3 separate regions of the Homo sapiens genome follow, and all the other regions are linked to region 3. The links come from fine-mapping of genetic effects on gene expression. A gene starts in region 3. Each other region holds a variant in brackets. All regions are shown on one strand. Distances are from middle to middle.

What was found. PIP is the estimated chance that this variant, and not a neighbour inherited with it, causes the effect. A credible set is the group of variants that fine-mapping cannot tell apart.
Region 1: its variant is the best candidate, but not a certain one, in a credible set for the expression of SERTAD4-AS1 in prefrontal cortex (GTEx, PIP 0.54).
Region 2: its variant is the best candidate, but not a certain one, in a credible set for the expression of SERTAD4-AS1 in subcutaneous fat (TwinsUK, PIP 0.76).

Annotation. Positions count from the first base shown.
Region 1 is chr1:210,253,671-210,257,886 of GRCh38, forward strand. No RefSeq gene overlaps it. Among named protein-coding and RNA genes, the nearest start is that of SERTAD4-AS1, 22 kb to the left of the region's middle. The variant C/T (reference allele first, on the strand shown) is at 2,087.
Region 2 is chr1:210,270,318-210,274,533 of GRCh38, forward strand. No RefSeq gene overlaps it. Among named protein-coding and RNA genes, the nearest start is that of LINC02602, 21 kb to the right of the region's middle. The variant T/TA (reference allele first, on the strand shown) is at 1,966.
Region 3 is chr1:210,231,531-210,235,746 of GRCh38, forward strand. SERTAD4-AS1 (SERTAD4 antisense RNA 1) reads right to left here and starts at 2,355. Exons shown (of 2, transcript NR_024337.2): 1 at 2,105-2,355; 2 at 1-241. SERTAD4 (SERTA domain containing 4) reads left to right here and starts at 1,266. Exons shown (of 4, transcript NM_019605.5): 1 at 1,266-1,481. RefSeq lists an enhancer at 1,144-1,677.

The DNA of each region.
Region 1 (4,216 bases), 22 kb after region 3:
TTTAATTAGCAAAAAGGCTGTCTTATTAAAGCTAATTAAAGGCAATTTGGGAACCTTATTTTCATACAATCATAAAATTAGAGAAACAAGAGGCAGGAGAAATGGGAAAAGTCTCAGCTTTTCTGCAGAGGGGGCAGGGAGGAGCTGGGGAGACCCTACCTCCAAGCCAGGCATGCAGAATGCCAGTGCCCAAGGGGGTGGACTGGAGCTCCTAGATTTGGGTGTGGCCTCAGGCAGTGCTGGGGACCAACTGCTGAGAGGGATACTCTGTTCACATCCTCCAACTGGAGTCTCAGAGTCACCTGAACTCCTCCCTCTGCTCTCACACAATTAGTCAATTCTCTCCCTCTAGCTATCTTTACATTGAAAAAGAAGGTGCTACTATTGCACCTCTGCCATTGCACCTGGCAGCCATAACCTAGGTGGTTTAGCATCCATCAGGTGCCTTAGCATCACCAAGCTCCACAGGGGCCCAGACTTCTGAGCACCCAGGGTTATCTACCCTTCTCACAGCAGGGGAGATTAAGGTCCACCGAGGTGAAGTCCACAGCCTCAGCCCTGCCCAGGGTGCCCCCTAAGTCCCCAAGCATTTCCACTCCATCCATTCTGTAGCTGATCATCCTAAATCACCAGGCAAACAGGAATACTTTACCTCCCAGGTTTGACTTTCAATGCCCTCCAGACCTCAGCCCAGGCTACATGCCCAGCCCCACCTTCTGCTCCCTGGGGGGAACCTTCTGCTCCAGCCACTTCTGTCCTCTCAATGTCCTCTCTTGCTGACCTGCAACTTTTCACCTCCCAGCCTTCACTCCTGCTTTTCCCTTAGCCTGGGATAACCTCTCCATGCCCCCACTTATACAAAGAGTAACTTGCCCTCAAGGCCACTTCAAGGTCCACATTTTGTGTGAAGCCTTTCCAGGGCTACTATAGGTCTGTTCTGTGATACATAAAATGTAATATCCCCCCTCTCTAGAATTACTTTTCAACTAGAATCATAGTTTTGGGGGAGATTTTTTTTGGAAGGCATTATAAAGTAGAAATTAAACATGGGCTTTGGAATCAGAGAGCTTAGTTACAATCCTGGCTTCCTATAACTTTGTGACCTTGAGTAAATGTCTTGACTTCTGTAAGCGCAGGTTTCTTCATGAGTAAAATGTGGCTAACTATACCCATAACTAAGTTATTGGGATGGTGTATGTAAGTCACTTTACATAATGCCAAGCACACAATATGAATAGCTGTGGGACCCTTGTCCTTGTTGATGTGGGGGAATAGTTTAGAGTGACAATTTGTTGTTTTATGAGCATGTCCTCCAGAAAAAGAGAGCACCCAGTCAAAGGATAGATTCCATGGCTATCTGAACTTCCACTGCACTCATCCCTAGGGGTTCTAGTACCTCAGTACGCACCCCCATTCCTTCTCTCCAGGGTCCCTTCCAAATCCTAGGAAGGGGCTCTACCCTCGGGTCCATGGGATAGTGGTTTATGGGCACATACTTACTGTAAGTGTCTAGTGTCAGAACTCTACACAAGAAAGACACTAAACATGGGGTTAGCTCCTTGCCTTCTTGTTTTAAGTTGCCCAGTCTCCATCCTCAGTAGACCTCCCTGTAAACAACCCATTCTGGCAGGAATCTAACAGTCTAAAGGGCTCTCCAGTAAATTCTACCATAACACCAGGAATTCTTGCCTGTCCTTAAAAATGCAGCTTTGTGCATACATAGATTTTTTTGTACAGCAGGCTTTGTCCCTCTCCTTATCTGAAGGCCATGGGACAGTGGGTGGCCACGAATCTGCAGGGGGCTCCCCTTCTGTCCTTCCCTGAACATCCTCTGGATGAAACAACCATAGCAAAACTGACCTGGGAGGAAGAGCAATGAGCCCATGCATGAAATACTAGTGTTTAGCTGCCTAGTCTCAAAGCAATTGTTTAAGTAGGGGCCTCAGCCATGCTAATAGCTATTATCATAGGACCTTATGTCTATTAATGTCTCCTCAGCAGAAGGAAATGCAAACTTATGACATTCTGATTGTGATAAGCAGCACACTTTCACCTACGAGGGGCTGTAATCGAAGCAGAAGTGCCT[C/T]ACAAATTAACTAGCAGTCGCCCACACATCAAGCACAGAAGATACTTTCTCTATCATAGGTAAGAAAGGGACTTATTTCTCATCCTGGAGCATCAGTGGCTGTGTCAGCCCCACCACAGCTTCTGATGGGACTGGAGCTACACTGACATGTATGATTAAAGCTCCATGTTATACCGCAGTGGCTGAGTTTTCAAGGAGATGGAGGAAACCTCACAGGACCCCTGGGGCAGGACACAACACTGCTCCTCAGAACATTCCTTTTAAAAAAGTTGTCATGAAATCCAATTAACCAGCTGGAAGGCCATCGTGGGCAGGCCTCCTCGGGGTTAATAAATAATAGAATATGCCCTACATTGGAAGGGGCATCTCTCTTTTCTAAGCTTGCAGGCTGTGACAAGGGCTCCTGGCAGGAAGAGACATGTACTACCACCACGTCCTGGTCCCTAAAACTTTGGTGAGTCCAGCAGTGAAGGTCCCCTAGACAGATGCCCAGAGTCCTGGGGGTACCTTCCCCCTCCCCTACACCGTAAGCCACAAATTCATCAACCCAGCCCCAGGTATGAGGGAATGAGGGGTCCTGTCTTGAGAGAACAGAGCATTAGAATGGGGTCAGGAGCTTTAGTTCTAGCTCCCGGTCAGTCTCATTGTCAGGCAAGCTGTTCACAGGCTCCTGTTCCCAGCTGAACAAGACTGATGGTAGAGAAGACTTCAAAGTGGGCACAGCAGGCTCTCTCTCACTGGTCCCCTCTCCGTGGCTGATCCCCCCGTGGGGAACACTTTACTTCTGTTAGACCAGCACTGCTCAATAAAAATACGATGCGAATCATGAATGTCATTTTCAATTTTCTAGTAGTCACATTAAAAAAAAAAGTTCATTAAAAAAAGTGACATTAATTTTAATAATAAAGGCTGGGCGTGGTGGCTCACACCTGTAATCGCGGCACTTTGGGAGGCTGAGGCTGGAGAATCACTTGAGCCCAGGAGTTCGAGACCAAACTGGGCAACACAGGGAGACCTTGTCTCTACTAAAAATTAAAAATTAGCCAGGTGTGGCGTTGCACATCTGTAGTTCCAGCTACTCAAGGAGGCTAAGCAGGGAGGATCTTTTGAGCCCAGGAGGTCGAGGCTACAGTGAGTTATGATTATACCACTGCACTTTTTTTTTAAATTTTTTTTTAATAGAGACAAGGTCTCACTATGTTGCCCAGGCTGGTCTTGAACTCCTGGACTCAAGCAATCCTCTCGCCTCAGCCTCCCAAAGTGCTGGAATTATAGGCATGAGCCACCACACCCAGTCCCTTAATTTTTAAAAAATAAAAAAAAGTTTTAAATTATAAAACATTTAAATAATATATTTTATTTAACCCAAATATACACAAATTATTGTCATTTTAACATGTAATCAATATAAACATTTTGACTGAGATATTTTATATTCTTTTTTGTCTTGTACTAAGTCTGAAATCTGGTGTCTAGTTTACAATGACAACACATATCAATTAGGACAAGACACATTTCAATTTCAATGCTCAATAGCCACATACTGCTAGTGGCTACCATATCGGACAAGTCAAGGCCTGGATCTCCGTGATCCCTTGTACAGGGAATCATGCAGCTCCCATCTGGCTCACAACCACATCCCCTCTCCTCTGGGCCCTCTGGGCACCATGTTCTTGCTTCTTGGGGACCCTTAGCCCATCCCCCTAGTTCACTCCCAGGGACTGCCCAGTGAAAACTACCCGGCACCAGAGGGTCAACGTTTTGGGGCTGGCCGGCTCTGATCTACACCCTCCAGCATCATCCCCACGGCCCAGAGAGGGTTGTGTGGGACTATCCTAGAGTGGCAGAGTCAAGGACAGGGGAGGCAGGTTGGGGGAGAGGAGGAGTTGCAGACAGTAGCTCCAGTAGTTTCTGGAGTGGTGAGGGCTTTAGTTAGAAGCAGACTGAGGAGCCTTTAATCCTCTCTGTTACCAGAGAGGAAAATGTGGGTGGCAAGTAAAGTCTTGTCAGGGAAAATACTGGCAGGAAGGTGAGCCACATGCCCGAGTAATCGCCGACTCCACCGCTCTCCTTTGATGTAGCACCTCGGTGCCATGCAGGCCAGGCCAGGCCTGTGACAGACAGGCCCTT
Region 2 (4,216 bases), 39 kb after region 3:
ACGTTGATCTCCTCACAAGCTATGCCTGAACTCCCCTCCTTCCTTCTATCTATCCCTTTCACTATTTGAGTTCACTTCAAAACTCCTTCTCCATGAAGAAGGACCCACGCCAGCCCTCATGGATGCTCTTACCCACTGAAGGCTGCACTGAGCTCAGCTCTGCACCATGCACGGTTCTGGCTGGCCTGTGATGTTTGCGTCTTAATCTCCCACACCACAGGTAACTTATTTGAAAGCAGACCAGGGTGGAGATGTTTCCTATGTCTTTACAGTGTCCCCGAGGCAAGCTCGATATTGGACTAAGTAAATAGCAGGGGCCCAATATCTGTTGCATCTGTTGAATGACTTGATGCAGAGCCTACCTGAGCCCTCCCACACTTGCCCCAGACGACCTGCTCTGTGAGCCTGTAGCAGTAGCTGAATACAGGATAGGAATGGGGGCTGCTTTTCTCAAGACTCTGCTTGCAGAGCTCCTGGGGAATAAACAGCAGGAGAGGCCCTCTCTCTACTCAAGAATCTGAGTTCAATCTGGGGATAGAGGAAGAGGGTTATAGTTCCCCATCCCCATAAGCACCCCCAGATAAATCAAAGAGAACACACCAGCCCACAGCAGTAGCTGAACAAGCCCATTTAGGTATGGCAAATAGATAACAGAATAAAAGACTGACTGAGGCAGGATGATCTTCTCTGGTAGAGTTTTATCCAAGTGAAAGGTCTTAAGCTTGATGTGGGAGACATACAAATGCCACTTGTTAGCCATACCACCTTGTACAAATCACATAAACCCCTCTGAGCCTCCGTTTCCCAACCTTTTTTTTTTTTAGAAGCTGAGTCTTGCTATGTTACCTTGGCTGGACTAGTGGTGGACTCACTGCAGCCTCAAAATCCTAGGCTAAAGGGATCCTCCTGCTCAGCCTCCTGAGTCACTGGATTACAGACATGAGCCACCGTGTCCAGCTCCCAAGTTTTCTAATCTTTAAAATTGGAATAATAATACCCACCACAGGCTGGACATGGCGGCTCACACCTGTAATCCCAGCACTTTGGGAGGCTGAGGAGAGAGGATTGCTTGAGCCCAGGAGTTTGAGATCAGCCTAGGGAACAAAGCGAGACTCTGTCTCTACAAATAATAATAATAATAATAATACCTACCACATAGAATTGCTAGGAGAAGTAAATGAGATAATGTACAGTTGGTCCTGTTAGTTGTGACCTCTGTATTTGCAAATTTGCCTACTCACAAAAATGTATTTGTAACCCTCAAATCAATATTTACAATGTTTTTGGGGTCATTTGCAGACATGCACAGAGCAGCAGAAATTCAAATCACGTTCCCAGCTGAGGCTGGATAAGGCATGCTCTTCCTTCTTCTTTCAGCCCTCATGCTGTAAACAAATGCCCTTTTTGCAGTCTATTTAGTGCCATGGTTTTGGCATTTTTTGTGCTTTTTCTTGGTGATTTCACTGTCTAAAATGGTCCCCAAGCATAGCACTGAAGTGGTGTCTCCTGCTCCTAAGCACAAGAAGACTGTGATGAGATTTACTGAGAAAAGAAGTCTGTTAGATAAGCTTTGTTCAGGCCGAAATGATAGTGTTGTGGGCTGTGAGTTCAATGTTAATGAATCAATGATACATACTTCATAGAAGCTCATAAAACAAGGCTATGTATTGATTGGTTAATGAAAATGTTCTGACCAGAGGTTCGAGGTCTGCAGTGATTTTGTAGGGCGTAAGTACCCTAAGTAATGAGAATGGGCAGTATGTAGAAGTGCCTATATAGTGCATGGTGTAGACGAGACGCATTGAGAAGTGCTGACTCCTGAACTTGGTGAGAAGATGGCAGAAAGCACTCCAAGCAGTTTCTTTCCATGGTTGTTTGTGCTTTGCCGGGAATTTGGATCCTGTAAGAGTCAAACAATTTTTGCTCATAAGTTTCTGTCCCTTTGCATCCATTGAGGTACAGAGT[T/TA]AAAAAAAAAAAAAAAAGTTTCTGTCTTATTTCTCTTGTATCCTGTGGGCGACTCATGTTTCTGCCCCAGACAGGGAGCTTAGGCAGGGGCTGAGTCTCCAAAAGGACTATGTCTCTTGCCTTCTTTGTGTTTTCTACCCTCCTTCTTGTTTGACACCCAGAGGTCCCAACTATCTTGTGTTTCAGTGGTTACTCTCACTGTGGTTCATCCTGGGGTGGGTGGAGGAGCAAAAGCCCTGTCTGGATCCCCGTTCCCCTGCAGGGTGACAGAGAAGTCTCTAAGCCCCGGCCATGGGGGAAAATGTGGGGGCGGGGGAAGGGGGACCCTGACCACCAGCTTTCCCCCCATAGGAAAGGCCCTCCCCTATTGGGCTACTGTCTTTTCCCAGGTGGGGACGAAAGCAGCAAGAACTAAGAAAAAGGAGTAGAGGTTTTCTCCACACATGGGTCTGATTAGACTCTCATTCCTGAGGCTCTCTGGGCTTGAACACTTTCTCTCCAGGAAGCCAGACAGCCAGTTAGAGAAAATCTGCAAACCTGCACTGAGGCCAGGCTTCAGGAGGCAGCCCCGGGTGGGATGGAAGGGACGGGAGGGCTGTGGGCACTTGATCTTTATCACAGCCCTCAGCCTCCCGGCCTCCTGCCAGCTCCCATAGCCCCTGGCCAGGATCCTCCAAGAATTCAGAGCCTGAGGATTGTGTTACCTTCTGAATTCCATTAGCACAGGCCAGCTGGGGGCGGGGATGGGGGCTGGCTAGGGCTTACCTGAGGAGTCGTTTGGTGCCAAGCAGGCGCCTTGGGTCACTTGTTTCTGCCTTTCCAGCTTTGATTCCCCCTTTGCCTTCATTCTCTCACGTTCTCTGCAGGGAAGGACATGAATTGTGTATATGTTAATATAAACAAAAAAAGATAGGGGTTTTTCAGATGTTCATAGGGAAGAGAAGTTAACGATGATACTAATAATAGCAAAACTGTGTGCCAGACACTGTTCTAATTGCTTATATGTATACAGTCCTGCATTGTTTAACAAAGGGGATATGTTCTGAGAAATGTGTCATTAGGCGATTTCATTGTTAGGCGATTTCACCATTGTGTAAACATCATAGAGTGTACTTGCACAAACCTAGATGGTAGAGCCTACTACACACCTAGGGTGCATGGTATAGCCTATCTCTCTTAGGCTACAAACCTGTACAGAATGTTACTGTACTGAATACCATAGGCGATTGTAACATAGGCAATGGTAAGCTCTAGAATGCCACAGGCAATTGTAAGTGTTTTTTGTATGTAAACTTATCTAAACATAGAAAAGGCATAGTAAAAATACAGTATAAAAGATAAATGATGGTAGACTTGTATAGGGTACTCACTGTGAAAGGAGCTTGCAGGACTGGAAGTTGCTCTGGGTGAGTCAGTGAACGAGTGGTGAGTGAATGTGAGGGCCTAAGACTGTGCACTACTGTAGACTTTATAAGCACTGTACACCTAGGTTGCAATAAATTTATAAACAATATTTTTCTTTCATCAATAACAAATTAACCTTAGCTTGCTGTAACTTTTTTACCTAATAAACTTTGAAAAATTTTAAAACCTTTTTGACTCCTTTGTATTAACACTTAGCTTAAAACACACATTGTACGGCTATACACAAATTTTTCTTTGTATATTTGTTTCCTTATGTCATTATTCTATATGCTTTTTTCTATTTTTATATAACTTTTTTGTTAAAAACTAAAACACAAACATACACATTAGCCTAGGTCTACACAGGGTCAAGAACCACCTCCATATCTTGTCCAACTGGAAAGTTTTTTGTTTTTGTTTTTTTTGTTTGTTTGTTTGTTTTTTGAGACAGAGTTTTGCCCTGTTGCCCAGGCTGGAGTGCAGTGGTGTGACCTCAGCTCACTGCAACCTCTGCCTCCCAGGCTCAGGCAATCCTCCCACATCAACCTCCCAAGTAGCTGGGACTACAGGCCTGTGCCACCACACTGGCCTAATTTTTGTGTAATTTGTAGAGATAGGTGTCTCACCATGTTGCTCAGGCTGGTCTCAAATTCCTGGGCTCAAACAATCCACCCACCTTGGCCTCCCAAAGTGCCAGGATTATAGGCATAAGCCACCACGCCCGGCCCCATTGGAAGGTCTTTGGGGGCAATAGTTGTCTCCTGTGATAACAATGCCTTCTTCTGTAATATCTCCTGAAGGACCTCCCTAAGGCTGTTTTACAGTTAGCTATTTTAAAATAAGTATA
Region 3 (4,216 bases):
CACTTAACTGCATGTCAGTCACCCAAGTTTTAAGTGTACAAATGAAATGGAAAACATTTATTACACAAATTTAATTACAATTCTAAGAAATAAACATGCAAATTAGATAGAGTTCAATTTGCAGATGCTAATCCTCATCCTTGATCTTGTTCCTTCCTCCCTTGATTTTCAGTCTGTGCGTCTTCTTGATTCCTAGGGAGCCAGGCAGCCAGAGGTCTGGTTTTTCACAGTCGGAGGATCACTGTTTTAAAGAAGTGTTATATTTAGCACATCTGGTATAGTGGCAGTAAACAAACATTATAGTCTTTGTAACACTTTTGTGCAGGTGCCTTCTCCCGATTTTATTAGGTCTATGCCTTCCAAGCCTCTGCCTTCATTACACCTGAAATGACCCATCTCGACTATGGAGGGGTCCCTAGACAGAAGTTATGAATTAATGATTTTAAAAAATAAACTCTGAGGCCACTATAGGAGAAAATTACTATTTGCAAAATATTCTGATTCCAAGGCTTAAATTACATTCTCTTGAGCAAGGACAATCTCTTGTATTACTTTTTATTTCCTGGAGGTTTTCCCTGGAGGCTCCCCACCCAGAAAGGGTTGCCAATTCAAGTTGCAGCAGGACCAAGGTTGCTTTTTTTTTTTTTTTTAATACGTACGCAGCTCAGGAGGGAAACGGGCGGGGGCGGGCGGCGAGGGAGAATAACTGTTTGGTCCTGCAAAGACATCTGTTTCTCATCTCCGTTTGCTGTGGCAAAGGAGAAGAAAGTCTTTTGCAAAGGGTGGGAAAGGCACAGATTTTTTTTTTAATCACACGCACACACAACAACAACAAAACTAAACCAAATTTAAAAAGACAAGATATCTCGGAAGGTTCCAGAGTGAATACATTATTCGGCTGGAGCCAAGCCCCCAGGGCTAGGGCGGGAGCCCGAGAGCGCGTGGGGTCTGGGCTGCGGGCTGGAGCTGGGCCCGCGTGTCCCCGGGCACCGGGAGGGGAGGGGAGGAAAAGGAGGAGGGAGGGCGGGAAGCAGGGAAGGAGGCAGGGGGCGGGCTGGGGTGGGGGTGCGGGAAAGGCGCCCCGTGTGCAGCCTGAGGAGCGGCGGCGGCGGCCTGAGCAGAGGGAGGGAGGGAGAGCGGGCGCGCTTGTCATGTTCCCTCTCTCACCCTGGGGGCATCCTGCAGAACCTCTCCTCGGAAATCCACGGGGAAATGGCAAACAGGATTGACGGGTTTCACACGCTCCTCGCTAGACAGAGCCGCTCATTACCATAACCGTCTGCAGCGACGGCGGCGCAGCGCCCCAGTCGCGGCGGCGGGACCTGCCGGGACCCTTGCCCGCCGCGCACCCGCAGTCACCGCCGAGCGGGCGGCCGGGCCGGGACCCGCGAGTGTGCACCGGCGGCCGGGCTGGCGCCGAGCCCAGAGCGGACCAGCAGCAGCTCAAGCGCTGCGGCCGCCGCCTCCCCGCTGACCCCGCGGTAAGAGCCGGGCTGGGCGCGGGCCGCGGGGGCGGGAGGGCCGGGCAGGGTGGAGGGCGAGGGCCCCCCGGGGCTCCTGCCCTCGCAGACGGGCACCCACGCGGCCTCCCGCGCGCCCTCTTGGCACCAGGGCTGTGCCGAGGTCACCGAGTGGACTCGCAGCGGCCGGAGCGGAGTCGGGGCGGCGTGGGGGCCAAGGCACAGCTGGGCGCGGAGGCGGCGCGGGCTTTTCCCTGGGCTAGCGTGCGCCGCGGCGCCTTCACCAGGGCGGGAACCGCCGCCTCCTCTAGGGCTGCTCGGGCTGCCACCCGCGCGCACCGAGACAACTCCAGGGGCGGGTGGGGTCAGAAGCTCTGGTGAGACCTCATGGTCCTCCGTGGCCGCTTAGTCCCTCATCGTAGGGGAAGGGGTTAAGTAGGAGGGGTGCCCCCAGGTCCGGATGCCGCGGCGCTTGGCAGGTGGGGAGAGAGGGATTGTGGATGTCAGGAGCGCGCGTTTGCAAGAAAAAGGAATTGATGCAGTAGCTGACACCTTCTGTCCCCCGCCACCTCCGCCCCCGCACCCTCCTCCCAGGCAGCAGAGCTGCGCTGCGGGCGGCGGCGGCTCCTCTGTCCTCAGCTCACCTCCTCGGCGGGCTGAGGCTGCTGCCCGCCTGGTCCACGCCTCCGCCTCTCGCTTCCCTTCCTCCCCTCCCGCCTCTTCGGCCCTAGCAACTTTCCGAGTGCCCAGCTGTGGTCGCAGAAGCAGGGAATAGGCGTCCTCGCCGCCAGGTCCCACGGGCGCAGGGCGCTCCCGCAACCGCGGGCTTCCAGCGGGTTTGGCCGGCAAGGGAGGGAGGGAAGGCCGGGCCGACATCTGCTGCGGGCTGGAGCGCGGGGGCCCGGGCCAGCCCCGCCAGAGCCCTGCCAGCCGCTGTGAGTCATTTCCTTGGAATCCTACCTTTGGTGTTTATTTCCCTTAGAAGGAAACTTGGTTTTTTTTTTAAAAAAAAAAAAGGATAAGACATAAAGAATAATAATAGCTCTTATTCTTCAGAAGAGGCACACGGCTGCGGCACCGTAGAAAGACAACTTGCCTTTGTTCCCGGACACTTGGGGTGTTGTTTACTTTCTCCTGCGGCCAGCGGCCGACCGGGCGCTGCTGGCTACCCGGGGAGGGGCTGAGGGCTGCGGCACCGACACCCCGGGGGTGTGTCTGTGCGGGAGCCAGGATGTGGTTGGTGGCTGCCGCCCGCCTTCAAGAGGTCGGCCCTCCAAACCTCGGACCCCACCCCCGCAACCGCCACACACACACACACCTTGGGCACCAGGGCTCGGGCATCGGAGCACCCCTTCGTGCTCTTTAGGCCCAGCACCTGCAGCCCCAACCACAGGACCCAGCTTCAAGCTCTTGGCCTCGCGGGGCTGCAGCTGAGAAATGTACTTCCCAGGGCAGACAGGTGTACTGCAGGAACGGCAGAAAAGCGACATCTGTTTGTTTAGAAGGGTTGAAGAATTTTGTTCCGCCCATCCAGTCCCTTCCACTACCACCACCAGGAGCCGGACAAGCTATTGAGATCATTTTGGGACAATGTGGAGGTCAGGGGCTTGATGCCATTTAAAACTGGCAGCATCGATCGGGGGTGGAAATAGCCCTTTACTTCCCTGCTTTCCAGTGCTGGAATCAGACTGCTAACTGCTATAATGATCTTAATCAAATGCTCTCCAATTTTCAATGACAGATGGAAGAAGAAGTGAGCAAAGAATGACCTGGAGCCCCTTGTTAGATTCAAGGTGCCGCTGAATTCATAGCTACCCTGTTTTGTGTGCCAGCCACTCCTATTAGCATCATAATTGCTTCTAGGAAAGAACAAGCCCAACTCATCTGGAAAAAAACAAATTGTATAGAAATGCCTGGTAACTTTACTACGAACATTTGCTGGAAAAGCTTGGCATTCTAGCCCTCAGTCTTCTGGGGATGCTGGAAGTGTCATTCCACTACATCCACCTGGGTGTCAAAACAGACATTCAGGAGCCTGAGGATGAAGGGTTAGGGCTTTTTTTTTTCTTATCTTTTAAACCCATGCATAGACAAAACACACTCTAACACCCTCCTGTTGAATCCATCACCTCTGATCTTAGAAAATAAATTTTGCCATAATGTATATCCTTTTCTTTATTTAATATTAATAGAACACGAATTTGTGGACTTGAATTGCTGACGTCAGTAGCAGAATTATAAATCTTATCAGACAGAGAATTATGACAGTTTAGATCTCTACATATAATACGAAGAAAGATTCACGTTAAGCATTTGTGCTTAACGCTGCCCTGTCCAATTTTTCGTGAACATTCAACTTGCCTTCTTAATTTGTTAACATCCAGTGTAAGTTTTAAATAGACTAGGAAGACTCAATTGCAAAATCTCCTCCCCGCTCCCAAATAATCCCAACTCATTCATGTTTTATTCAGATTTACATAAATCACTTGCAGAACTCAGCCTCTCTAGTTTAGGGTTTTGTGTGTAACAGTTCTCAATTTAAAAAAGAAAAACTTAGTAAAATTAGATATTGTGAACAAAATAATAGCCAAGATAAATACTGTTATGCCATGTTTCAAGTTCACGTGCATAATAGGATATGCTGGAAATAATGCTAACAAATAGAAACGCTGAAATTCCTCACAACCAAAAAAGGTACTACCAAAAAGTTATTAAAATATAAACAAACTCTGACAAACATAAAACAGCACAGGGCC